2 separate regions of the Homo sapiens genome follow, and region 2 is linked to region 1. Evidence: fine-mapped expression QTL. Tissue or cell type: whole blood. Region 1 holds a variant in brackets; the other region holds the start of a gene. All regions are shown on one strand. Distances are from middle to middle.

Region 1 (9,949 bases):
CCTTCTCTGGGCCTGACTCTGTTGAGCAGCTAAGAAACATGGGTCCGTGCATGAAAGCCTCTGGCCGTCTTAGCCAACACTGCCCCCTTAGCCTGTGCTCTCACGCCTGGGTCTCTTTAGCCTCAAGGACCTGGGCTCCATGGTCCTTTCCTAGTAGTGAGCAGGGCCCACGTCAGGGCAGGGACTGAGGCTGCCTTTGGATCCATTGCAAGGGTCTGGGGGCAGGGTGGGTGGGGTGATGGCTGAGAGGAAGGGGACCCCGCCTGCCAACGTTGTCGCCTGCCTCTCTCCTAGGATGCTGTGCTGTGGGGCACTGAGCCTGCTCCTCAGTTGGGCATCCCTGGCCGCTGATGGCTCTGCGGCAGTGGTGAGTTGGGGGAGGGAGTGGGTGGTGGGTGGTGGTTGGTCTGCCAGGACACTCTGGTGTGTCTCCAAGCAGGGCCAGCTTCCGGTCCCAGCTCCTAACCTAGAATCCCAGAATCTCAGAACCAAAGGGACTTGCGTCATCTGAACCGGCCCCTCTCGTTACAGATGGGGAAACAGGCCCAGAGAAAGGAAGGGGACTGCCCAGGGTCAGAGCCAGGATAAGACACTCATGCTTCATACCCAGAGAGAAGCCCCCGGCTGCCCAGGCATGCTTAGGCTTACACGTGCTTAGGCTTAGGCGTGCCTGGGTGACCAGGGCGCTTCTCTCTGGGTGTGAAGAACTGACCGGGTCTCCTGAGAATGGGTAGGGGTCCAAGCCTCAGACTGGGGAATCCCTCCCGCATCAGAAGCTGCTGCTTTGCCAGCTCCCCAGGCCCTGGGACTGTAGAATGTGGTGTCTGACTTGCCTTCCATCCCAATGTCCCAGGACTCCCGCGGTCTGAAGCACACATGCTGTATGTTTCTGGATGTGATGTCTCAAAATGGCTTAAAAAAAAAAAGTTGGGGGCTTCCTATGCGGGTCCACATGATCTTTAAAGGACCTAACACTGGCGCTAAGCTGTGTGCATGAGGCTGTTCATTCACTCAGCTGACATTGTTTGCTGGGTGGCACTCGATGGTACAAGTTGCCTGGGGTTGCGGAAGCCAAGAGGACGTGATGTTTGCTGTTGACAAAGTTCCAGCCTTTGGAAGCAAGACTCATAGGCAGATCACTGCAACCCCAGGCTTTGATACAGTGGAGGTGCAGTGTGTGTGTGTGTGTGTGTGTGTGTGTTTGTGTGTGTGTGTTCATGCACATGCACGTGATAGAAGAGAACACAGTTTACCAGGGGAATTCAAGGAACCCCTCACTGATTCAAAGTCCACAGACTAACCCTGGGACATGCATCTGTTCTGCCATAGTGACCTGAGGCTTGATAGGATAAGATGGGGGTGGCTTGTACAAGAAGCTCCCTAACCACACTCACACCTCGTCCAGTGACTTGGGGGCTGGCCACTAGCTCTGGGCGTGGACACAATGCCCTCAGGGACTCTGGCACTGCCTGACTTAGCACCTTAGGCAGAGGCTTGTGCAGAAGGGAGAAGAGGGGGCATTTTCTGTCTTTGCCTCCTGCCACCCCAGTGCAGTGACCACGGACCAAGGAATGGTCGAGAAAAGGCCCAAGTCATGTTTGAAAGCATGCAGGAGCTGGGACGGCTGTAAACAGTGCCACTGCTGGCCAGGGTGATGCAGGCAGCTGCCTGGCCTCCAGCCTCTCCTCTGGGGCCAGGGCCACGCACAGGGAAGCTGCAGGGAGCACACGGCGAACTCCTCCAGGGCCCCATCCCGCTTTCTGGGCAGCCTCTGCCTTCTGGAGGCAGCGGTGGCTTCCAGCTTGCCGCTGTGAGCTGCCCTGTGGTGGCCGCCCCTCCCAGTGGGGGCTCCTCCCTCTCACCAGGCTTCAGTGTTCACGAAAACCAGAGGCCATTTAATCTCCCAGCTGGGCGCCCTGGAATGCGGGGAGCTGGGGAGAAAGGCCATTTCCCTAATTCCTCTAGTCAGGCCCCTGAGTGCGAGATGGGGAGCAGGCGGTGGAGCTGAATGGGCTTTTGACGGGCTGGAGATGCTGCTGCATTTTAATAGGAAGCCGGGTGAGGAGGAGCCAGGAGGGCGGGGAGGGCGGCCGGCTGTCCCGGGGTTGTTGTGGAGAGCTTTTGTGTGGCCTCCCAATGCCACCCTGCTCTCTGAGGCCTGTTTTGACAGCCATGGGGCCAGAGGATTGACAAGGCCTCCCTTCCCCACCCCCGACCCCTACCCCTCCCTGTCCCTAGAAAGGACTCCATGAGGACAGAGCACTGCCCTGGAGATCTGCTCTGGGTGAGGCAGGGAGAGGAGGGAGCAGCGGAGCTCCAAGCTTCCAGGCCCTGGGGCCACCCCTCGTGGTCAGCACTGCGAGTCAGGAGGTGTCTGGGGTGAGGGGCTAGAGCAGGCAGAGAGGCTGGGAAGCCCTGGAAGAAGGAAGGGGAAGGAAATGGGTTCAGCTGTGAGGGAGGAGGCAATGGCTGTCACAAGTGCTTTGGCCACCGAGCCTGGGGACAGAGAACTTCAGGGGATTCCTCCAGCTAAGGGGCAGCCAGGCCTGCCCCTGAGTCAGAGGGTGGGAGTGTGGCCTCTGCAGCCACCCTGTCTGGGCCCACATCCTCCCTTCACCCCTTCCCAGCAGTGGAAACCCAGGAAAGTTCCTGAGGTTTTCTGTGCCTCAGCTTCCTCCTAGGTGAACACAGAGAATAACAGGACTTACCTCAAAGGGCTGTTGCTAGGGAAAGATGAGTGGGTTCATCCTGGGAGGCACACAGAAAATGTCCAATAAACAGTGGCCACCACTGGCTTCCTGTGCATTCATCGTCATCATGCTAGGGTCACGGGGGTCCCTTCAGACCCACACCTCCATTCTCAGGAGCTGCCTGCAGGCTCAGCCATCACCTGGGCTGGTTACTGGGCAGCCTCTCCCACCTGCCCCAACTATGCTCAGTGACCTCCTTCCTGTCCCCTCTCCTGCCATCCCTATCACCATGGCATGAGTAATGCACACGTGTATTAGTCCATTTTCACACTGCTGATAAAGACATACCCAAGACTGGGCAATTTACAAAAGAAAGAGGTTTGATTGGACTCACAGTTCCACATGGCTGAGGAAGCCCCACAATCATGGTGGAAGGCAAGGAGGAGCAAGTCACGTCTTACATGGATGGCAGCAGGCAAAGAGAGAGGACGTATGCAGGGAAACTCCTGTTTTTAAAACCATCAGATCTGCCAGGTGTGGTGGCTCACACCTGTAATCCCAGCACTTTGGGAGGCTGAGGCAGGGGGATCACCTGAGGTCAGGAGTTCAAAACCAGCCTGACCAACATGCCAGAACCCCATCTCTAGTAAAAATACAAAATTAGCCAGGCATAGTGGTGCATTCCTATAATCTCAGCTACTCGGGAGACTGAGGCAGGAGGATTGCTTGAACCCGGGAGGTGGACGTTGCAGTGAGCCAAGATCACGCCACTGCACTCCAGCCTGGGCGACAGAGTGAGACTCTGTCTCAAAAAAAAAAAAAAAAAAAAATCAGGTCTTGTGAGACTTATTCATTATCAAAAGAACAGCGTGAGAAAGACTTGCCCCCGTGACTCAGTTACCTCCCACCAGGTCCCTCCCATAACATGTGGGAATTCAAGATGAGATCTGGGTGGACCATTTCGACATGCACACACACAAGGGCATCACACACATACATGCACACGCACACAGGTGCTTGTCTTCATTAATAGGAGAGTTGACTCCTCACTGAGTCCCACACCCCAAACCATCCTATGCACCTATCCCAGGAGATGGAGGCTCCAGGGTGGCCAAGGGGTGTGAAGAGCAGGCCTGGCCTGGGAGGGGAAGGAGGAGAGAGGCAGGAGGAAGACCATGTCACTGTGGAGCCTTGGACTGGAGCCTCCTGTCCCTCTCCTTTCTTGGTTCCCAAACTTCTTGGGGGTGACCCAAACTGAGATGGTGGCCTCGCTCTTTATTTCCCCAAGGCTTCCCCATCCTCCACTTGGGCCTGGCTGCACTCTCTGTCACTCCAGCCAGGGGGTGGGGGCACACCACCAGGCCTGCTGGCGCCGCAGCTCTGATAGGTAATAATAGGCCAGGTTGATGTATTATGAATGCTGGTGGTTTGTGTATAAAGCATTTCTCCCAGGGTCTTAAGTGCGTGCGTGCGTGCGTGCATGCGTGTGTGTGTGTGTGC[G/A]CGTGCGTGCATGTGGGGCTCTCGGGAAGCTCTGTATCTGGAGGGGTGTGTTATTCCGCACCCTCGCTATACACACATTTTCTAGACCGTAAGTGCTGTGATGCACTAACCTCTAGGTGCTAGAACCCTGCACGGCACTGAGTAAGTACTCCATAAATGTCTATCAACTTAGCAAGTTAGTGAGTGATGCTCTATTGTGGACCCCTGAGGCAGTGGCTCCTGAAGGAGGACGGGGCCACCGGCAGAGCAGGGCACTCAGAGGGGTCCCCTGCCCGGGGAGCATGTGCCAGAGGAGGGGGACATCCCTAAGGAACAGGCCAGAGGACCTGAGCTCTCCCTGGCTGCTCTGGAAGGCGGAGGCCCCCCAGTTTATCCAGTCCCTAGAGCACCCCAGGCCAGATCTGGGGTGCGCCTGGCTTGGAGGCCATGTCCTTGCTGCCGCCTCTCCTGGGGCCTGCGTCTGCTCCCACCCTGCCGCATGGGCCTTAGCAATCACTTAGCCAGGCCGTGCTGTGGGGCCAGGTCCTCCAGCTCATAAGTGGCAGCCGCCTCTCAGCTCCATGCCCTTCCCACCCCATGTCTTGGCAGGTGAGCACCTGCACCCAAGGCTCACAGATGCTTCAGCACCAACCTCATTCTTTAGAAAGAGTTTGGGGGAGGCTTCATAGATTGAACACCCGTCCCTGTAGCACTTGATCATAGCAAGACAAAATGTAAAACAGCAGATGAGGCCATGGTGTAACGAACTCCCACACACACAGCCTGCAGCTGCCCTGGGGCCCAGGATGCTGGCCCCCAAAGGTCTGTCCCAGAAGAGGCATTCGGGAATAAGAGTAACAGCATGCGCTCTGCCCCAGTCACTTTTCTGAGCACTTTACTTGCATTGGGTGAATAGCATTATCATCTCCATGTCACAGATGAGGCAACCGGGGCACAGGAAGAATAAGTAACTTGTCCAAGGCAACAGAGCTAGGAAGGGGCAGAGCCAGGTTTGAACCCAGGAGGCTGGCTCCAGACTGTCCTTTGCCACCTGGGAGGGAGCTCAAGGGGCTGGGGTGATGGGCTCCCGGCTCCTCCCAGGGCCCCGCTGTCCTGATACCTGATTTTCCTCCACCCCGTCCCTCTCTCCCTCACTCAGGCCACCAGTGACTTCTGTGTGGCTCCTGACACCTTCATCCTGAACGTCACGGAGGGCCAGATCAGCACAGGTAACTACACACTCTCAGGCTGCTGCTGTGGATGCATAGGTGGCCGGACTCTGTGCCCCTACTTACCTCTTTCAGCCCTGTAGCCATCCAACCCCTCCTCAACCCTGAACTTCAAGTCCAGCTCATGCTCTAGGCCATTTCCTAGAAAGTGCCTCCCTTGGGAGCTCAGGGACGGGGAGGGAGGTCTGGCTTGGCCACCAAGGATGATAGAGATCTCATCTGGTCATTTGTGAGCTGCCTAACGTTATGCCGTTGCCCTGCAGAGGTGACTCGCTACTACCTGTATTGCAGCCAGAGTGGAAGCAGCCCCTTCCAGCAGGTATGGCCCCCCGAGGCCTGCCCTCACCCTGCCCACAGCCGCTCCCCCTTGACCCTAAGCCTCACCACTGACCAAGATGGCGGAGGTGGCAGGGCCTTGCTTGCCTCACTGTGGTCCTCTCCTTAGCTGCTTCTGTGAGGGGGGCGTGCTTTTGGTCGTGGGTTCTAGATTGGTGGTTAACACATATGCAGCTCAATGCGGGAGCTAGTTCCCATGCAGATGCTGTCCAGGAGCTCTGGGGTGGGGCCGAGATTCTGTACTACTCACAAGCTCCCAGGTGAGGCCAGGGCTGCTGGTCCAAAGACCACATCTGAGCTGCAAGCAGGGAGAAGACTGTGCAGCTCTCAAGAAGCCAGAGGAGTAGGGGGAGACTTCCTGCAAGTGGAGGGGCCTGTGCAGCTGCAGCCAGGTGGGGGGGTGGGAGGGGCAGGAGCATAGGCCCCTCAGCCACTGTGGGGCTCCTGGGAGACGGAGCCTCACTGTGGGGCTCCTGGGAGACGGAGCCTCACTGTGGGGCTGTGTCTTTCCTGGCTCAGACCCTGACCACCTTCCAGCGCGCACTTACCACCATGCAGATCCAGGTCGCGGGGCTGCTGCAGTTTGCCGTGCCCCTCTTCTCCACTGCAGAGGTAAGGCAGCTGTGCAGGAAGAGGGGAGCCCCAGATGAACCCTGACAGCCCTTTCCCCTGCCCCGGCCCCAGGGCCAGGCTGTGCACAGCTTGCTGCTGGCTCTCTGTTCTCCCGCCCCCGTGACTCGGCTCCCTCCCTTGGCTCTAGAGGCCCCTGAGCACAGCTGCTGTGGTGGTTTTCTCCGCCAGCTCTCCTCCACAGCCCCTCGGCCTCTCTCGCTCTCTTCCCGCTTCAGGAAGACCTGCTTGCAATCCAGCTCCTGCTGAACTCCTCAGAGTCCAGCCTTCACCAGCTGACCGCCATGGTGGACTGCCGAGGGCTGCACAAGGTGCATGGGGACCCTGGGGTCACGTGGAGAGTGTGAGGGCACCCAGCAGGCCACACCTTCCAGAGAAAAGCCGGTAGAGGCCGAGGGGAGCGATGGCCTGGGTCCCCTTCCGGCCCAGGAATGGAACTGAAGCCAGATAATGGGAAGGGAGGGGGTGCCTGGCTTCTCCAGGGGCTGAGACAGGGAGACTCAGTACAAGGGACCAGGGGTTCGGGATGGGAGGGTTGGATGCGGTTGGCTCTGGGTCACTGGGGGACCCTGAACAATGCAAGGGAGGCTGTTCCCCATTGTCCAGACTCCTAGCCATTTCCTCAACACATCTGTCTCCCTGGGTTGCAAGTGGATGTCCCAATCCCATTGCCAGAGTCTTCTTTCCAGGAACTTGGAATATCAGACAGACACAATGATGCAGGGAACACATGGGGAGCACGTGAGAGCCCCCCACCCAAAAGCAGTGAGCCAGTGTATGGCGACAGCTTTCACATCCCAGATGGATTTAGTGCAGACAGTCTTTGTCATCATCACAGCTGTCAGCTCCATGCTTGGCCCTGTTCTGTGCATTTTATATCCAGTATGTCATTCAGTTCTCACAGTTATACTGTGAACCACACGTTATTTCCTAGGAAATTGACTTGCTTGTGCGTGTGTATGGATAGATCCATAGATACAGCTATGTGTGTGTGCACGTGCGTGTGTCTGTGTGTGTGTGCGTGTGTGTGCACTTGTGGTGTATATGTCTGTGCGTGTGTGGTGTGTTTCTGCGGTTGTGTGGGTGCACATATGTGATGTGTGTATGTATGTGTGTGGTATGTGCATGCTTGTGCGCATGTGTGCTGTGCATGCGTGTGTGTGGTGCATGTGTATGTGCCTGTATGTGTGTGTGGGGTGTGTGGTGTGTGCGTGTGTGTGGTGTGTGCATGTCTGTGATGTGTGTGGTGTGTGTGCATGTGTGTTGTGTGCACATGTGTGCACATGTATGTGGTGTGTGTGGTGCATGTGTGTGTGCATGTGGGGGGTGCATGTGTGTGGGGGGTGTGTGTGCGTGTATTTATAAAGTGGCTTACTGAAGAGTCCCGAGTTGGCACATCAGGGGCTTGGGTTTAGATCCTGGTAGTCTGACCTCAGAGCTAAGAACATGGCAGTCACCCCTGTCTCCTCTCTTCTTCCCCTTCTACATCTAATCCCCAGCAAGTCTTGGCAGCTCTCCTCTCAGCTGTACCCTGAATCCATCCATTTCTCTTTCTCTCCATGGCTTCCACCACGATCCGGTCCTGCCCCTCCAGCAGACAGTGGCCTCTTCCCACTTTCTCTTGCCCCCTCACCACCCATGAGCTTTCACACATGCAACCAGAGCAGTCCTTTTGCAGACTAGGTTGGATCACATCCCTTCCACTCCCACACCCTCCAATGTCTTTCTGACTCCTTTTAAAAGTCCGTACTCCTCTCCCGCATTGCAAGGCCCAGCACGACCCAGCCCCTGCTGGCCTATGTTCTCTCTCTTTCCTGAACAGGCCAAGCCTGTCCCCTTTGCCCCCTCTTCTCAAGGTGTGCTGCTTCTTGCCATCCTGGCCTCAGCTTCAGTGCCCCCGTCTCTGGTTCCCCACCCTGCAACCTCCTCCGCCCTGTTCAGAGCCAGCTTCTTAGTGCCCAGCTCACAGTAAGTGCTCAGCAAATGTTTCCAGCGTGAACCCAAGAAGCCCCATTGTGTTAGGCTCCAGAGTGTGGACCTTTAATGGTGCTGCAAGGCGCTCGGGATGGGGAGCAGCCAGGAGACCCCAGGTCCAGGCTCGGGGGAGAGGGACTTCCAGAGGAGAGCTCGGCCCGCAGGCTTTGCCCCCGCTCCTTCACTAGCTGCATGTCCCTCCTCTTCCTCCAGGATTATCTGGACGCTCTTGCTGGCATCTGCTACGACGGCCTCCAGGGCTTGCTGTACCTTGGCCTCTTCTCCTTCCTGGCCGCCCTCGCCTTCTCCACCATGATCTGTGCAGGGCCAAGGGCCTGGAAGCACTTCACCACCAGGTGGGCTGCCTAGTAAGGAGGGGAGCCTCCCACAGCCTGGAGTTCTGGGAGAGCAGCAGACAGGGGCCTCTGCTCTACGATTTAGCTGATAACCCAGGACTGAGGAGGGCAGCAGAGGGCCCGGGCATTCAGCCCAACAGGCTGGCTGACTTCTACAGAAGCTTCCCCAAGAGTCCACACAGACCCTCCAAAGGAGTTCGGTGGGGCCCAGAGCAAGAGCTGGGGCCCAGGGTGGTGACAGCCCTCAGGCCACAGTCTGGCCTCCCTTCTCCTCTCTTCTCACCAGGACTTTGCGATCTGGAATGAGGAGAGTTCTTGGTGCTGGGAGGGGTGCCCCAGGAATAGCAAGAAGGATACATGGGGTCACTGTTTTCAGGGAGCCTGCAGTCCCCTTGAGGAGATGGGCAGGGACACATGGTGTACAGGCACCTGGTGAGCGGATTAGGCAAGAGGACGCAGGGTAGTGGGGACCCACATGCGCATGGTCAGCGTGGTGGGGAGCCTGGAAGAGCTGGTCGTGAAGCTGGGAATGGGCCAGAATGATCTGCAGGAGGCAGGCTGGGGACCGCGTTTTAGAGGAGTCTCAAGGAGACACGCGTGGCCAGAGAGTCCTGGGAGGAAAGGCAGGGAAGTAGGACAGGACCTGGCTGCCTCGGAGCCTCCTTCACCCTTCACAGCCGGCCATCTTCTACCCATTGTTCTAGAAACAGAGACTACGATGACATTGATGATGATGACCCCTTTAACCCCCAAGCCTGGCGCATGGCGGCTCACAGTCCCCCGAGGGGACAGCTTCACAGCTTCTGCAGCTACAGCAGTGGCCTGGGAAGTCAGACCAGCCTGCAGCCCCCGGCCCAGACCATCTCCAACGCCCCTGTCTCCGAGTACATGTACGGCCTGCACACACACCCAGGCTGGGTAGCACTGCCCGGACAGCATGTTGGGTGGGGTCCACAGTGCCGGGTGTGGGGAGGAAGGCATCCAAGGCCACCCGTGGTCCCCACTACAGCCACAGGGTGCCTGGAGGGAAGGCCCCCGGGGAGCATCTAGTCACCCCTCCACACCCACATGTGCTGGGGGAAGAAACCACTGATGTCAGCAGCCTCTGCCACAAGCTGGTGGGACAGGTCTCAGGCCCAAAAAGCTGCATTTCTCCAGGCCATGCTGCTCCCAGCCTCCGTTGCCCATCAGCCACTTGTCCCCAGGCTTCCCAAGGTGCTCTTCTCCATATCTGCCCACTGCACCCCCTCCACTC
Region 2 (8,688 bases), 35 kb before region 1:
GTCTAAGAATCTGCTCTTGCTGTTGGGAGTGTGAGGAATAGTTGTGATTCTCAGATTATATACAGTACCAGAAATCATTTCCTTAGCCAGAAGAGCGGTTAGAGCTCATTTAATCCTGTTCACGACCCTTCGAGGTTGGTGCTAGTACTGATAGTCCCCATTTTTTACAGGGGAACAGATGAAATATAATAGACCAAGTCTTTTTATCGAATATAATAGACCAAGTCTTTTTATCAAACACTAAATATTTTAACCGAAACTTCGCTGGTGGATCTAATTTCTGAACCTTGTGTGCTCTCTTTAGCTTAAGTACAAAATTTAGACAAGCAGCAGCAACTCAGATGTGTCTTCTGGATGGCTTACTTTTGTCTCTTTCCCTCTAGGTTTGGCAGTGAAGGAACTGAAATGAACCAGACACACTGATTGGAACTGTATTATATTAAAATACTAAAAATCCTAAGTGTCTTTCGTCTTTGCGGATGGGAAAGGGAAAAATGCTACCTCGTAGTGGCTTCTGATGGGAACAGGACGCGGGTTCTGTTGCTGCCTTCCTGTGTCTTTTTTTTTTTTTTTTTTTCTTTCTTTGAGACGGAGTCTTGCTCTGTGGCTCATCCTGGAGCACAGTGGTGCGATATCAGCTCACTACCACCTCCGCCTCCTGGGTTCAAGCGACTGTCCTGCCTCAGCCTCCCGAGTGGCTGGGATTACAGGCACACATCACCACGCCTGGCCAATTTTTGTATTTGTAGTAGAGACAGGGTTTCACTGCCTGCCTCAGCCTCCCATAGTGCTGGGATTACAGGCATGAGCCTCCGTGCCCGGTGCATCCCTAATCTTGAGCATGATCTCAGTCGGCAAATGAGGCCATCTGTTTTCAGCCTGTTTGAAAATAAGATGTGGGGAGGCCATGATGGAAATAGCACGTGGGGTTAAACATAACTGGCAGATGTGGGAGCGATGGTGGGGCATGCCATTCAAACAGGTCCCAAAATGGGTGCAACAAGGTATAGCACATCTACCACTCGCTAACTTGACTGACTTGGAGAAATGACTACACTTTTGCCTGTTTCCTCAGTTGGAAAATAGCCATATTAACACCTCTTTCATTGGCTTGCTGTCAGGGTACTGGGATGGGGGGAGGTGCATGGGTTGGGGTGGCCACCAGGTGGTGCTGTGCCACAGCGGGCAGCCCCTCTGGAAATGACTGGCATCATAAAATCTGTCTTCATACCCGAGGTAGTGTTTTTTGTTTTTTTAAGATCTCTACCTTTTAAAAGCGTGGCATACAGTGTGCTTGGTATTGTGTTAGGCATTTAGACGTGCTCAGGTTGTAAGGTTGAAGTGCCAGTCTTTGAATATTCTGTAAGGATTGTGAGGGTGTGAGGTGGTTTTGAGTCTGGTCACGGGTCTTGTTTCCTCCGGGAGAGGGTGGGTACACCAGCCCTCAGGCCCAGGTGCGGCACTGTGGGCGGCTTTCAGCCTTTCCCGTTCTGTAAGCATTGCAGATTCCCAAGGAAAAGCGAGCCTTTACCATGTGGGTTTTCTTTGTTCCCAGCACATCGTCCAGAGTTTCATCCCAGCTCCTAGGAGACAGGCCTTGCAGGGGTGTGTCCAGCCTTGTCTAGAGAAGGCCGCCTTTCATGCAGTGCTTCCCAGCCCTGGCTTGTGACTCAGTCATCTGGGGCACTTAGGCAGTTCACTGTGGTGGCCAGGGCTGACTGGAGATTGCGATTGCGGTGGTCTGGGGCATAGGTGTGTTTCCAAGCTCTCAGGTGGGCCTCTGCTTTGCTGGGGCTTCAGCAAGCCCTTAAGTGCTGCATACCAGGTGAATGGGGAGGGGGGAGGTGATGGGCTACAGCTGCTGGTGTGCCGACTGTCCTCCAACTCCCTGCTGAGTCTGTGGGAGGTCTGTCTGTTGTGCTTCAGCTTTTTGACACCTCTCTGGGTCAGCAGGCCTCCGGGGAAGCAGCTAGAATGGTCGCTGTCTGGCTGGGTGCAGGTGGGCTGACAGGTTTGGATATTCCAGGCCGCATTCCGGTGGCTGTGGAGATAGCCCTGAGGGACAGCCTTTGCAGTTTGTTTCTTCCAGTGCCGTGTGCAGGCCTCCAGCCTTCTGGGGCTCCCTTGCCCCGGGTTCAAAGTCAGTCCTCGGTGACCACCCACTGCCTAGGAGGCAGGCCCTTCCCACCTGGGGGGCCTCTGAGGGCAGGGGCTGTAAAAGCAGCTACCAGAAGAGTCCACTTTCCCCAGCAACTGCAGGGACTGAGTCAGAGACCAAGACCTTTTAAAAGGAGGTTTTCACCCAAAGAAGTTCCCTCCCCTGCCGCAGTCTCCAAGCTGATCGCCTGGCTCCTGCAGTTCTCCGGCTCCCTGTCCTGTTCTGGAACTTGCTTGCTTCCCCTTCCACTGGCCTTAGTCCCTGATCTCACAGGGTCCTGTTCCTTCTGCACAGAGGCCTCCCCCAGCACCCCCCTCTTTGACTCCCGATCATCCTTCAGCTCATGTCACTGTCCTTTGGGAAACAACCCTGACGCCCACCTTCCATCCCCTCTCCCTACAGCAGGGACTCTGACATTTCACAAGGCCTGCAATCGCTGTTTGCAGGATACAAGTCCACCTCACCTCGCCTACTAGGCTGTAGACGCCATGCAGGCGGGAACGTGTGTTTTATCCATTACTGTATCCTCTAGAACAGAGAACGTGCTCAAGAAAATTTGTTGAAAGACACCCCAATGAGAGAAGAATGGCTGTTTCCAGCCTTCCGGGCCCCTCAGCTTTGGGCTCCTGCAGGGCCCCAGAACCGTGGGATCACGGCCACGAGGAGAGGCCCCGAGGCCAGGACTTCCTCTAATGGACACAGGGCCTTTGAGCACCGGGTGACTGGGGCCCCACTCCCCAGCAGCCATATGTGTTTGCGAGCGTTTTCAGTCGGTCCGCATCCACCCGGTCCCTTCAGCCAGAACCCTAGGAGCCCCGCCCCGTCCTCCCGGGGCTCCTTTCTCACCCGCGTCCCTGCCGCGGTGGATACGCACCCCTCAGGCTGGCTGCCCAGCGCGGTTTCCACGCCCAATCTGCCGCGACCCCATCACTCCACCGCACCTACCCCTGACTCCTGCTTGTCCTGCAGCCTGGGCTCCTCCCTCCGCTGGCCAAGTCACGCCAAGCAGTTTGCGGTTACAGGACGGGTGGGGGCCTCTGCATATGTGCAGAGTACGGAGGGCCCAGGGACGCGAGGCTCCCCGATGGGCAACCTCCCCTGCCTTTGCTTTTCCCCAGAGCCCCCTCCTGGCCTGCGTTCGGCATCTTCTCGGGTCGTCATCGCCCTCTGCGGTGCCTGCGCTCGGGGTGAGGGTTTTTGTCGGCTTTTGTTACATCACCGATGTAACAGTGCCTGGACGTAGTAGGTGCTCAATAAATATGTTGTTGAATGCGCTTCAGTCTCCCCGAATGCTTGTCCCTTCCGGGCGCTCTCATCGCTCTCCTACCTTCCCCGCTACACAGCTCGAAGGTCCCCTCCTCCGGGAAGCTCACCCTGTCCCACTTGCCAGGAAGAATCAAGCAAATTTTCTGAGTGAGACACCTTGTCCTCACTCAGGCGTCCTGCAGGCGGCTTCAGCGAGTTGTTGGGGCAGATGCGCCGGGAGCTCCCGAGGGCAGGGACGGCGTCTTATTTCTCTTTTTAAGTCCACAGGGCTTGCACAATAGATGCCCAAAAAATGAGAGTGAATTTAGAATGAGTGACCGAGTGGCTGAAGATTGCCTCCTTCCTTTCCCAGTCTGTCGGTTACTTACCCTGTGACAAGCCCTTGGGACGGGCAGTCGCCCCTCTCTGGCCTATGACTGCTGGCTGCCCCCACTGACACCTTATACCCTTGATCTGATCATAAATAAGAAGCAGCCCGGGGACCTCGAGACTGAAACTGATTTAGAGACTTCTGGGAGCTTTTTTCACTTCCCTCCTCCCATCCGGCCAGGACAGATCCCCGCCCAGAAAGGGGCTGTTGACTGCAGCGGGCTGCGCGCCCAGAACTGGGACTGGGATCGCGGCGGGGCGGGGCGGGCGCGGGCCCAGGGAGAGGCGGGGCCGGGGGCGGGGCGGGCACGGGGCCCCGGCCGGGAGGTGAGCGCAGCTGTCGTTCAGCTTGTGGGTAGCACTCGGGCCGAGCCATGCAGGCGGCGCGCGTGGACTACATCGCTCCCTGGTGGGTCGTGTGGCTGCACAGCGTCCCGCACGTCGGCCTGCGCCTGCAGCCCGTGAACAGCACCTTCAGCCCCGGCGACGAGAGTTACCAGGAGGTAAGTTTACGCCGCCCCAGACCGCAGCCACGCGCGCCCCAAGTCCCCGCACTACCCCCTCTCCCCTCGAGAGCCTGCACTTTCCCACGTGCCTCTCAGACCCCTTCTCTCCCCGCGCAGCCCTTTCCCGTCTCCCCTCTCCCCTTTTCCCCCACCCTCCCAGGCCCGTGGCCCGCGTCCCCTCCTGTCTGGGAACCTGGGGGCCGGGAAAACTGAAGAGATCAGAGTGAAGCGAGCGTGGGGAAGGGGAGGAAGGGCGCAAGACCGCCTGCGGGGTGAGGGGCTGAACGCTGAGCGGGCAGGGCGGCGCGGGGGAGGGGTAAGGACAGGGGCATTCGTCTCGGGGTAATCCTGGCGCGCGAGGTGCGGGGATGCTGAGGGGTGCCCCGAAGTTTTCGACCGTCTGAGATTCCAAGATGGGGCGCTCTCTTTCCGGGGCTGAGTGGCCTAGGAAAGTTTGGCAGAAACTGAGTAGAGTCTCCCGAGTCGGTCTTCGCAGCACCCCTCCTCCCCAGCCCCGGCCTGCAGGGTGGGAGTCTCAGCTGGAAGGCTGCAGGGCTTGGGGAAGCGGTGTGGGTCACTTCCCCTCTAGCGCAGAGAACCCACAGCTGCTTGCGCTTGTTCCAGGGAAGGAAGGTGGCCTCCGTCAGCCCATCTCACACTGTTGTCCTGAGGACCCCCTTGCATTGACAGTCAGCTTCTCTGTGTCCCCTGGTCCTAGACTGGCCCATTCCTGTTCCCCCACGCCCCTCTCTCTACCTCACACCTTTAAGCCCTGAATTTCTGGCCTAGGGCAGTCACTCCCGGCTTCCCCGCCCTTTCCCTACTCTGCTGACCCTTGGCAGGATTCTGCACCCCACAAACAGGGCCAGGGCTCCCCAGACCTCCCTGCCCAGACAAACAAAGCTGCAGAATCTCCCAGCCCGTCTCAGGTCTGGTCACGCCTGCTCTGGCCCCGGGAGCCCACCTGTATCAGTTCCTTGTGTTGGGTCAAAGATTCTGGGGCCAGTGGACCAGGATGAGGTCCATTTATTCAGAGCCAGGCGCCCATCTCAGGACTTTGGCCCCCGGCGGCCTCTCCCTGTGTCAAGTTCTCCAGATATGGGACAGATCAGGGCAAAGCAGGGCCTCTTGGAGGGAATCCTGATCCAGTGTGAGGTGCCCAAGCGCCAGTGACAGGGAGTCTAATAATAACCCCTGACGACCCGGCTGCCATCAGGCCCAGGCAGATGGTGCCTGCCCTACCAGAGGGAGGGGAGCATCAGGACCCCTTCCTGGGGTTCAGTGGGCACTCAGGAGCAAGACGGCAGTCGGTGGACCCACCCCCCTCCCCCAGAGCCCAGCCTGTGGGAGTCTGTGTTCCCTGAGAATGTGGCTGCCTGGGGATAGCTCCAGGGAATCTTCCTCTCCCAGAGAATGCATGAAAAGAGGCGGATATGATTTCAGAAACAGCCGTGTGTGTGTGTGTGTGTGTGTGTGTGTGTGTGTCCCCATCCCAAACCCTGTGCCCCACATCCCACACCCGGGGTCTCCAGCCATAGTTTTCTCCTCTCCACTGGAGGAAATCTAAACTTTTCATTGGGTCAAGAAGACCCCTAGGTGGGGGTAGGGATGGTAAGGGGACTCCCTCACCCTGATGGCCCCAGAGACAGTTCCTATCAGCCCAACAGCTGTGGCTGGTGGATCCTGGGCCTGCCCACAGCCCCCTCAGTCCCATGGGCAGGTGGCAGTTGAGCCAGATGAACCTACCTCCAGCCTCTGCCCCTCCTCCCAGGATTCTGGCCCCGGCTCACTTTGTGCTGGGCATCAAATGGTTCCAGAGGGTGTCCCTTCCCATCGGCCACTGCTCCTGGGCAGCTGACACCAGCCCTGCCCACTGGCTCCTGGTCCCGCTCACCCCCTCACCACCACTCAGATCGCTGAGTAGGAGATGAGCGTGGTGGGCCAGGACCGGAAGTCTGGCTCTGGGTGTTATTTAAGGTGGCTCCTGTTTTTGGTAAGTTCCCCTGTTGTGACCACAGGTCTCTCCTGGATGTCTTCTTTCCTCCTGAGCACCAGTCACTAACAGAGTCAGGTGGACCGTCGGTCATCCCAGTCTTCAGCAAGCTTGACTGGAGCAAGTGCTATGCCAGGCGTGGGGTGACCGTGGTAACCAAGGCAGCAGGTCTTCAGGAGAAATTGCTGGGGATTTTCTGCGGCTGGGCTCTGGGCGCAGTGCTATGGCAGACACCAAGCAGTTTGAGGTGGGGCTCTGCCCTCCAGTTGGCTGGGGTGGATTCCCAGTTCTTTCCATGTGTGACCACGGGTAGGTGTCTTAACCTCTCTGAGCCTTGTTCCCTTCATCTGCAAGAATTAGATGAGATATTCCACATATCATGCCTAGTACAGAGAGTCCCATAGCACATAACAGGAGCCAGTGACACAGATCATTCAATGGAGTGGCTGAGAGGTTCAGGAGTGTGTCTCAGGACAGTACCCTGCTGGGGAATGGAGAGGAAGGAGATCTCTTCCACAGACTCTGATTGGGGGAGACTGAACAAAACGCCTGCAGAAAGGGCTTCAGCTCATGCCCCACATGTTCAAATGCACAGTGCTGGCTGTGTGGGGTGTGGGGGGTGGGTGCGTGTGCATCAGAGACTAAGCAAGGATGGAAACAGGCAGGTGCTGGCCTTAGGATGTGGGTGGTGCGGGGGATCTCAAAGGCAAGGGGGTTCTTGGAAGTGCAGAGATGGTGAAGAGCAGGTCACCTGGTGAGCTGGGATTTCCTGAGCAAGTTCAGTGTTCCAGAACCTTCCTGAGGAAGTAGGGGCTCTCACTCACTTTCTGGGGTGTTTGGGAGCCGTGAAAGCCCCCAGTCCTCCTGATAGTTGATCCTCACCCCTCTCCCCCCAGTGAACTTGAGCCCAAGTCCTCGCAAAGGCCACTTGGCCTGTGTCACCAGCCTTGTGGGGAGGCTACCCTCCAGTGAGTAGAGGCATGAGAGGTGAGCACCAAGGCAGGGCTGTGGACGAGGGCACCTTGGCCCTGGCGGGCACCCAGCTCTGGGCTGCCAGATGTGGCTGTATGTCTGGAAGGAAATCAGCCTAGACCTGCAGCCCAAGTCTTCTCACCTTTGACAGATGAGGGGGATTGGATTTGGAGACGATTCCTACTCTAAAGAGATGATAAAAGAACTAATGAGTTCATGGATTATGAAGCCTGTGGCCAGTGCCTGGCACACTGGAAACTGCTACAATCACTGCTTAGGAAGGAGAAGACTGCAGCCAGCCGGTGTCCACTGGGCAGTGTTGGGGAGAAGGGAATGGGCACCTGGCACTGAATCCAGCAATGTCTCTCTGAGCAAATGAACGAGGCACTTCGGTGTCCCTGCCTGAGCGTGAGTGCCACCATCACCATCCAGCCAGCCCCTCAGGGGAGACCAGACACTGATGAGCTCAGTTCTTGAAACATCTTAGTAAGCTCCCAAAGGCTGTGCAAATGTTAGTTATTGCTACTGTCAACAGGCAGGTGGCCACATGTGTGCTTCCTGTTCCAGCTTCCCTTGCCCAGGATCAGCCGACCAGCTGCTCTTTGGGGACATGTGTTAGGAGGCAGAGGAGATGTTGTTAATTTTTTTTGTATTTAGGCATGTATTTCCACGTGTTCTCTCATTGGTTGGTTCCGTTCATAGATTCGCCAAAGTACAAAGTGGAGGGTACACAGTTGGGGACTGGACCGGAACTACAGGACTTCCTGCTTCTGACCTGGGGGCAGGTCTGAGGAAGAAGGACCAGGCAGCAAGCCCATCCCAGCCGAGATCTGAGAAGAGCTGAGGTTGGGATGAGGAAGCCCCATTCATCCAGTGTGAAATTGAGTCACGGTCATCAGACAGTCATGCCGCGCCTGGGAGAGGGCTTAATCTTTCCCAGTGGGCCTGGGAGGGAGACTCTCCCTCTAGGTGCTCCTAGTTTCCCTCTCCCAGCCTCCCCCTGAGACCGGCACACCTCTCTCTATGTCTTCTGGGGCCAGGGCTGTTGCCCCCTCCCCTGCCCAGTGCAGAAGCCCCTTGGGTCCCGCTGCCATGGTCACTGCGGCCCCCAACTTGGGTCCCAGCTTGGCACTCTCCGCTCTGGGTTTTTCATGACACAGTGACAAATCAGAAATAATTGAAGTCCCTTTGATGAGGGGAGAGGCAGAGTCTGAGCACCAGTGTGGGAGCTGGGGGCCTGGTGTTGCTGTGGGACAAGGAGGTGGCTGCAGGGCACAGTGGGAGGCGTGGGGAGGCGTGGGAAATTGTCTTGGCAAAGCTCTGTCCATCTGAGCAGGGGGGCCTGGAAGCAGAACTCTTGGCTCCCTCCTCCATTCCCCTCCACCTCCATGCACATGGGGACATGCAGTGTTAATTAGGAGCAA

What was found. PIP is the estimated chance that this variant, and not a neighbour inherited with it, causes the effect.
Region 2: TTYH2 starts here. The variant in region 1 is fine-mapped to the expression of TTYH2 in whole blood (INTERVAL, PIP 0.99).

The regions. Positions count from the first base shown.
Region 1 is chr17:74,243,683-74,253,631 of GRCh38, forward strand. TTYH2 (tweety family member 2) reads left to right here. Exons shown (of 14, transcript NM_032646.6): 6 at 295-367; 7 at 5,329-5,398; 8 at 5,662-5,717; 9 at 6,254-6,346; 10 at 6,583-6,675; 11 at 8,552-8,694; 12 at 9,399-9,584. Among named protein-coding and RNA genes, the nearest start is that of DNAI2, 26 kb to the right of the region's middle. RefSeq lists an enhancer at 1,200-2,094. The variant G/A (reference allele first, on the strand shown) is at 4,191.
Region 2 is chr17:74,209,421-74,218,108 of GRCh38, forward strand. It overlaps TTYH2 (tweety family member 2), which reads left to right and starts at 4,151. Exons shown (of 14, transcript NM_032646.6): 1 at 4,151-4,296. The coding sequence starts at 4,168. RPL38 (ribosomal protein L38) reads left to right here. Exons shown (of 5, transcript NM_000999.4): 5 at 384-1,235. The coding sequence ends at 409. It overlaps MGC16275 (a long non-coding RNA gene), which reads right to left and starts at 3,901. Exons shown (of 2, transcript NR_026914.1): 1 at 3,104-3,901; 2 at 560-2,262. RefSeq lists enhancers at 1,073-1,122, 6,446-6,495 and a silencer at 4,028-4,187.